3 separate regions of the Homo sapiens genome follow, and all the other regions are linked to region 2. The links come from fine-mapping of genetic effects on gene expression. A gene starts in region 2. Each other region holds a variant in brackets. All regions are shown on one strand. Distances are between the middles of the regions.

The links.
Region 1: its variant is fine-mapped to the expression of PITPNM3 in testis (GTEx, PIP above 0.99).
Region 3: its variant is fine-mapped to the expression of PITPNM3 in whole blood (TOPMed, PIP above 0.99). The same link has a PIP of 0.9 or more in testis.

The regions. Positions count from the first base shown.
Region 1 is chr17:6,653,367-6,656,123 of GRCh38, forward strand. C17orf100 (chromosome 17 open reading frame 100) reads left to right here. Exons shown (of 1, transcript NM_001105520.2): 1 at 1-110. It overlaps MIR4520-1 (microRNA 4520-1), which reads right to left and starts at 2,143; the gene lies at 2,074-2,143. MIR4520-2 (microRNA 4520-2) reads left to right here and starts at 2,083; the gene lies at 2,083-2,136. RefSeq lists an enhancer at 1,741-2,313. The variant CCA/C (reference allele first, on the strand shown) is at 1,448.
Region 2 is chr17:6,555,035-6,557,791 of GRCh38, forward strand. PITPNM3 (PITPNM family member 3) reads right to left here and starts at 1,521. Exons shown (of 20, transcript NM_031220.4): 1 at 1,351-1,521. The coding sequence starts at 1,372. RefSeq lists an enhancer at 1-432.
Region 3 is chr17:6,576,468-6,579,182 of GRCh38, forward strand. It overlaps KIAA0753, which reads right to left. Exons shown (of 19, transcript NM_014804.3): 19 at 1,680-2,715. Among named protein-coding and RNA genes, the nearest start is that of PITPNM3, 21 kb to the left of the region's middle. The variant T/C (reference allele first, on the strand shown) is at 1,707.

The sequences.
Region 1 (2,757 bases), 98 kb after region 2:
CTAGTGGAGCTTACACTCTGGTGAAAAGGCAGACAAGCAATGATGAAACAAGACAATTTTCTATTGTGATTAGCACTATGAAGGAAATACATGGGTAATGTGATAGAGAATGGAAGTAAGTGGCTTCTTTTGATAAAATGGTCAGGGAAGGCCTTGCTGATTAGTTAACATGTAATCTGAGATATGTGTGAATGAACAGTGATCTGGAACAGGTGCATTCTAGGCAGAAGAACAGCAAATACAAAGGGTGGATGGGAACCAGCTTTGAATGTTCAAGGAACAGAAAGAAGGCCAGTGTGGCTGGAGTGAGAGAGAAGCAATTATATAGACATGGAAGCAGAACGGAAGAGAGGAGTTAAAAGCAAGCAGGGGCCAGTCCACAGAAGGTCTTCTAAGCCACAGTAAGGAATTTGAGATTATTCTAAGGTCAACAGGAAAACATTGAAGGGTTTCCAACAGGGGAACGACATGATGCCATTTACATTTAAAAAATATCCTTTTGGCTTCTGTGTGTAGAATGTGGGACAGTGGTTCTCAACTAAGTGTGATTTTGTCCCCCAGAGGATATATGGCAACCTCTAGAGACATTTTAGTTTGGTTGAAAAGTTGTTGGGAGGGGGTGGGTGGCACATTAGGTGCTACTGGCACCTAGCGGGTAGAGTCCGGGGATGCCACCTGACATCCTACAGTGCACAGGTCAACACCCTCCCCTCTGCCAACGATGAAGAATCACTGGTCCCAAAATGTCAATAGTGCCAAGGCTGAGAAACACTGACAGTTCTAGCAGCTTGGAAAGCTAGAGCATGGTCTACTGGGACAGCGCACCACTTTAAGGAACAGTCATGGAAGAGGGTTACCTTTAAAAGTAAAGAGAAATCATCAAAGAAAACAGCAACACAAATGAGACACAATACCTACCACTCATGGGCCACTATGTAGGAATTTTAACAGTGATCTCTAAGGTAGGCTGTAATAACTGTGGCTTCCCCTATTTTAATAATGCATTGTAACAATTGTTAACAGTGATTAAGTTTCGCAAAAGCACGTGCTGAATCAGTTAAGAAAAACTTAGGATGCAAGCTGAACAAGAGACTCCAGAGAGCCTAAAAGATGATGGAACATATGCATATATAAGAATCACAAGTAACACAATGATACACAGGTCTGGCGACGATATTTCAAACGTATGCAAGCTCATGTGAGAAGCAGAAAACCAATCAAGGACACGCTTTAAGACACAAGGAGGACACGCTTTAAGACACAAGTCCTCTCCCTTAGTCTCGCCCACGCTGGGAAGCTGGTGGGGTCGTGTTTGAATAGCAAAGGTGTGCGAACAAACCAAATTAGGAAAACTGCAGAGTACCTTAGCCTTTCTAGACGCTGCAAGAGCCTTCTCTCCTCCCTGTCCAAATACTAATCCTGCCGGGAGTGAGGCCTGGAAGGAGGC[CCA/C]GGGGAAGCGGGAGAAGAGGTCTGGGCCAAGGAGAGTTCTATCTGCGAAGACTCCAGGCTCAGAGCGCTACTCACCTGTCTCCAGGGCGACGGCAGCGGCCATAACAGGCAAAGACAGCGAATCGCCACCTGCCTAACAGAGGAAAAGCCCGGAGGGGCGGGAGGAGTTCCGGAAACCACGGCTCCCTCTTGCGGTCCCGGGGCACCGAGGAATATGGGGACGGTGGCTCCGCTCATCCCCGGCCAGGCCCGCTTAGCCCGCGCTGGCTCCGGAATGGCGAGGGGGCGGTGCCGGGCTGTGGGAGCGCCTGAGGGGCAGGAGTCCAGGGAGGCAGACTTTTACCCTCAAAAGGAATGAGTCCCAGAGCCTGGCACAAGGAAGACAAGTGTGCAAAGTTGGTGGAATGAATTCGGTGGCCTAAATGTACCTTCCTCAAATGCCACGGCTGACTGGGTCTCCTCGCCCACTTCACCCTCTCTTGCAATCCAACTTGTGAGGCGTGTGTGTGTGTGTGCATGTCCGCGCTTGCCTTTAGATGGAGGTTGGCTTCCCAGCCATCCAGGCTTGCATACACGTGCATAACTCCTACCCCTACCTCGCCTGCCTGCTGTACCAGGGGTTGATTCCTTCTTCCTGCGTGTTTTCTGTCCAAATCCTTTTCTGATTTGGACAGAAAACACGCAGGTGGCACACAGTAAGCGCTTAATAAATTTTCCGGCTACCTGATCTTCTTGGAATTGAGGGCATGCTCCTGTGCGCCCCTCATTGCACAGAGCTCCCTTGTCTGGAAACTCAGCAGTCACCGGAGCCGCCGTCGGTCCTCTCGCTTTCTCTATTTTAAAAAACGTTTCAACCGCTAGCGCTGTTGGATCTCTACCTTTCAGGCTTTATCACCTGGGGTGGAGTGGGTGGTGAGAGGGAAGGGATGGGGAGTCAAGACAGGAGAACGCTCTCGATTTCCCGACCCACCTCCCGTCATATCTCATGTCATATCTACCGGGTGTTCTACCCGGTCCTGTTACTTTTTTTCTTCCGCGAAAGCCCAAATTCCCATCACTGCTCTAGCTCTCTCCCAGATCGCCAAATCCGGATGTCTGTCTCAGGGAACGTCAAAGCAACATGCCCGGATGAGGTCCTCCCCTCTCCCCACCTCCCAGCCCTCTCCTCCTGCCTCCCCCGGTGTCACCCGCGCCTCCTTCCTCTCTTCACCTCCCTCTAAACAAGAATCCGGCGCAGTCAGTTCTAGACCCTGAGCATCTCCCGCGTCCCTGCCCAATATCCGTCCCGCCCCCGATCGCCCGCGTCCT
Region 2 (2,757 bases):
TTTTAAGGAGTCGGGGTGGGTGAGGACCCAGGCACGGTGGAGGAAAGAGGGAGGCAAGAAGCCTTTTTCAGCTTCCTTGGTGTCATCTCACAGTGCCTCCCTCAGGAGGGGAAAAGGGAGGGGAGTGAGAAGGCTGTTTAGCTGTGTTCCATACTGGCTGTGCCTCACACAACCGGCCCCACCCCGACAGGACTCCTTGGGGACAGAACGGGAGTGCATTCTCAGGCACCTAAATCTTACAGGCTCAGTGCCTGCACAGGGAGACGGGTCCGCAGCCCAGGGTCCCGGGCAGCTTTCGGGCTTGGGGGTGGATTGACACACAGCCCGATGGTATTCACACCCATTCCTTCACTGTCGCGCCCGGTCCTGGGGGACGGCATGGCACCAGCCAACGTCACGGGTTGGGTGTGAGTTCATGGTAGATTCTCACACGCCAGCCTCACAAGAGGCACTGCCGAGACCAGGCTTGCTGCCGCCTACTGTATGGCCGGCCCTGTGGGCACAGCTGTCCTCCACCCGCCTCCCAAGGCACCATCGGGCCCAGAATGTGCCCGATGAGTCACGGGCCTGGGTCTCCCCAGCATGGGCGCAGCAGGGGGGCTGAGTCCGCCTGAGCCCCGGTGCCCAGCTCAGGGTCTGGCACAGAGCAGATGCTAGTGAATGAACGTCGGGCTGGATGAATGAACGAATGACTAATGCCCGCTCCCTCAAACCACAGGCTACACCGTCTGAGCCTGGGGGAGGGCAGAGCCCACGGGACCCCAGAAGAGGCCTCCGCAGCTGAGGCTTTGCGTCCCAGGGTCGATGGGGGAGGGGGCGGGGCGGCCAGCAGCCGGCGCGGCACGGGGCTCCCCTCCTTCCCGAGAAGGAATCTGGGTCTCTGGACTGAGCTGGTGACGGGGGCTGGGGCGGGGGGTTGTGGCGTCCTGGATGGAGAGAGCTGCAGGAGCAGGGGGCGCGTCCCGGTTTGCGTTGGGGTGTGGGACGAAGCGGCGGCCGCGGGACATCCCCTTCGGTGGCGAAGCCCGGGTCTGCCCGGGGCCTCCGCGGGGTGCAGAGGGCTCCCAACGGCGGGACTGGCCCGGGGCGCCGCAGACCTGGCCCTTTCCGGCGGGGCCGTGGAGAAGGGGACGCGGTGTCCCCCGAGGTGACCGGGGGCGCAGGAAGGACGGGGGGCGCGCGGAGCCCCCTCTCCACGCGCGGGAGGTCCAGCCCCGCTACCGCCCCCTACGCCCTCCCGGGACCTCCGCCCACCTGCGCGAGGGGTTCACCTGGGCCGGCGGCCCCTCCTCTAGACGCGCGAGTCCCTCCCCCGGGCCCCGGCCCTGCCCTCCCCGCGCCCGCCCTCACCTGCACGGCCCGCCTTGGCCATGTCCCGGGCGGCGGGCTCCGGCGGCGCTACGCGCGCTCCTCGCGCTTCCCGGGCCCGGCCCCGACCGCCTCCGGCCCCGAACGGACTCCGAGCGCCGCGCCCGCGCCCCCGCCCCGCTCGCCTCGGCTGCCGCCACCGCAGCCGCCGCCGCCTCGCCGCTCCCTCCCGCTCCCTTAAAGGCGCCGAGCGGCGGCCGCGCCCCCCCCCCACCCCACCCCCCGCGCCGCCGGGGAGGGACTGACGAAGGAAGGCGCCCAACGCCGCCCCCGCGGGCCCGCACCCCCGCCCCGGGCCGTGGCCGCCGCGCTCCAGCCCGCTCCGCTCCGGCCCGCGCGGCCACCGCAGCGCGCGAGGGGCGGCAGCCCAGGGGCTCAGAGACGCGGAGACAGCCCGAGACACTGCGGGCCAGAGACGGGGCCCTGGACTGGGAGAGGGGCGCACAGACTATTAGACAGCGCTGGAGAGAGACGCTCCTAGGGCCAGAACGCCGAGGTGGAGGGAGAGAGAGAGAAATTCAGAGGAGACCAGAGACCCAGAGCCCGGCTCCGGCTCCGGGAGAGACGGACAGAGGGAGCGGAGAGAGGAAGGAGGACAGGGATCCAAGGGAGGCCCCCACGAAGTCAAGAGGAAAGTCGCTCTGGGATCAGAGACAAGAGAGGGACCCCCTCCATCAGCCCCCGCTCCAGGGGTTCTGGATCATTTATGGCGTCTGACCTAACCTCAAAAGAGAAAGGATTCCCGTGATTTTAACCCTCAAGGGATAAGTAAAACACTTGCACATCCACCTGGGGTTCTAGGCTGGAGCAGGCTTTGTGGACCCCAGCGGCCTGGTGGTGAGCAGTACCCGCCTTCCACTTCCTAAATCGGGATGCAGAGATTCTAGTGGACAGGCCTTGTGGTCCGGGGAGATATGGGTTATGACTTCTGTTTAGGGGCAGCAGGGATCCACAGTCCAGCCCCAAAAGAGAGCAGGAGATGGCCAATTGTATTTGGCGGTGCCTGAGAGGTAACAACCCTCCACTGAGAGGGTGCCCTGCCTCCCCCAGGAATTGGTAAGGCTGAAGCCCAGTTACCATCTGTAGAGCCAGGCACCCAACCCACCCTGTCCCACTCCACTTAACAGGGAAAAGGTCAACTGGAGAATTCCATCCATGGTCCAGGCTCCAGGGTCCTGCAAGCTCCTCTATGGAAACAGGGCACACATGGGGTTAGATGGGGGCTCTCAGTCCAGTGCCTTCTCTGGGGCTTTGACTCCATTCACAAGATTCCTGCTAAGCAGTCCTCCAGCTCCTGGTTGGTTACCTCCAAGGACAGGAAGCTCAGTATCTTAAGTGAGAGTTCTTCCTTTTATTAATTTTTTTTTTTTTTTTTTGGCTAGTGCTGGC
Region 3 (2,715 bases), 21 kb after region 2:
CTCTTCAAGAGCCCAGAGAACCAGGAGCCCTTTCACAGGCTGGCCCCTCCCAAAGGTCACTTCTGTGGTGATCATAAGCCCATGATGATGTGGACACCCCTGAATTTACAGGCTCTGCAGGGAATTCTCACTACTGTCTCACGTTGCTAAAATAAAGAGAGCTCCTCTCAGAAACACAGAAGCGTGATGGAAACCTACACTGTCACAGAGAGCACAGGGGACTTTCTGACTTGGACCCTTCCTCTTGCTGTTGGCCCTGGGGCTTCCCTCAGGCCCTTCCTTCTGCCTTTCAGACCCACTGGCCACAGTGCAGTTCATGCCTCCACCTCCCCCACTCCCCCAACACACACACACACAAACACACTCGGACCACCTTCAGGAAAGCAGGAACCGTGAGCCCAGGGAGGAAGTGGAGTGAGGAAAGCGCTTCTCTCCTCACCATCTCTCCTCCAAACCCCAGCTCCGGCGGGCAGAGGGAGAAGGGACCACAGTGCTGAAATAGTAACAGAACACAAGAGGCAAGGGGCTCCCATGCACATCCTTCTGTCTTCTTCTCCAGTCCCTGGGCCGCCCCAGCTTAGTCCCCAGGAGCACCCTGACCAAGGCTCGCTCAAGGTCAGGAGCAGCATGAGGCTGAGGCCCATGCCCTGCTCTAGGAGGAAGGAAGCAAGTTCTTGCCATCTGAGCTGGAATTGCAATGGCAGCAGTACCTCCAAGATGGAATTATAGTTCTCAAATGGCATTCTATCTCGGGGTCACAAAAGGACATCATAGATTTCTGTGGACTATATGAGATGTGACAGACCCCCCCGTATAAAGTCAATCAGCCTGCCCTTCACCTTTCATTAATTCAGAAGAATTTACTGAGCACCAACTACAAGCTAGGCAGGGTCCCTGCCCTCAAGGAGCTAAACAGACTAGAGGTAAGCACAGAAACAGACAGAAATCCCGTGTGACCAAGCTGTGCCGGTGGAGCGCTCGGAGTGCATTTTCATGTCTCTGTACACTGGGGACGGCGTATGCAACACAAAAACACTGAACTCGTGTGTTTCTGCTTCTGAAATAGTACACGAATAGTTCGTGAGAAAGCTGAAGGGAATTACAGAATGATGTACGGTCAGCCCTTGTTCATGAAGAACAAAAAATTCTAGATGTCTGGGCTGGCTGCGAGGCGATAAACGGGAACTTTTATATTCTAAGGATTTAGCTTCCATTTGCAAAGAAAAATGTTTATTTCTTGCAGTATATTTTTGTGTCTTTGGAGAATGCTCTGGCTGTGGATGTTTGCGATGGGCCAGGGATATAAAGTTGACACCTGGACACTGGGGCTGGTTGAAGCTCCACCCACATGAGTCAGAGAAAGGCAGATCCACCTGGTGGGAGGAGCAGGAGAGAGTGGGAAGATCCTGAAACAAGGCAAAGCCTGGGCTCGGCCTTTCAGGACACAAGCTGCAACAGGAAGTGTGAGAATGGGACTGCCCCAGCACACGCCGAGTGGGGATAGGGAAAGGCAGGAAGATGAGCTCAGGTAAACTCCAAGTTTGTTTGGTCAAATTATCTCCTCCTGTGCCTCGTTTTATTCATCTATACAATGGGAACAATGATGCTCTCCACCTCACAGAGATGAGGTGAGGATTAAATAAGTTACTACATGGCAAGCACGGAGAGCAATGCTCTAGTAGGTGCTCAATAAATGTTAGCTTTTA[T/C]TGTCACTAATTTTTTTCTCGGGGGGAAGGGGTGGCAAATAATCCACTATAGTCATATCACATATAAAAGTATTCTCAGTGGTTTCTGTAAATCACATTTCACTTTGCCTGTGGGAAAAAAAGGAGATGTAAGTTATTTAAAATAGGCACATACTTTAAAATATTGGGTTTATTTTAAAAACTCAGCACAGTACAAACTGCCACACAAATTACTTTATACTAGCAACAACCGGTGCTCCTATTAATTCAAGTGTACACATTTAACTCCCCAGGTTAAACACCCTGTAATTTACCTTGAAGCTCTTTACATTCTGAAGTTATATAAAATTAAGCAGGAAAACATTAACATTAAATGAAAATCAATTTTGCACAAATAAGTGTGATCAAGCAGCTTAAATCACCTGAAATTCTTGTACTTCAGAGAAAAATCCCAGATGACGGCACTGGACAGGTTATAAAGAGTTCCCTTATTCCCTGGGGGCGTCTCAGGCATTCTTTCTGCATGTTTCCTTCACTGAGCCTCAGGCTACGAATTGAGAGAAAGTCTTTCCAGGCAGTGGCCTGATTCTTACGCACATTCCGTTTCTTTTTCTGAATTCAGAGTTTCTGAAAACACAGGCTTTTCTCTTGGAAAACATGATCTGTAAGATGTTGGAGGACCAGGCTATGATGGTTCTTAAGTTTCTTCCTTTCTCTGGGGAGACACAGAGGTCTTCGCGCCATCCATCTGTTCCCTACTCCCACTTGGGTTCCTTTGTGGTATGAAATAGAGACACTTCTGACCTCATCGGAGACACAGCGAGGTCTGTACCTTCACCCAGGCACAGGAGAAGGCCTGGTCCTCTCCTGATTCCTCAAACTTCCTCTGAATCCAGAGAAAGTTTTTTATACCAGATTGTGTCAACACACAGCAATAAAATATGCTGAGGAACTAAAAATGTGAAAATCACCTAGGAATGGAACGTTGAAGAAATGTGTGTCTATTATTGTGCACTGACAGCCAGGGGGC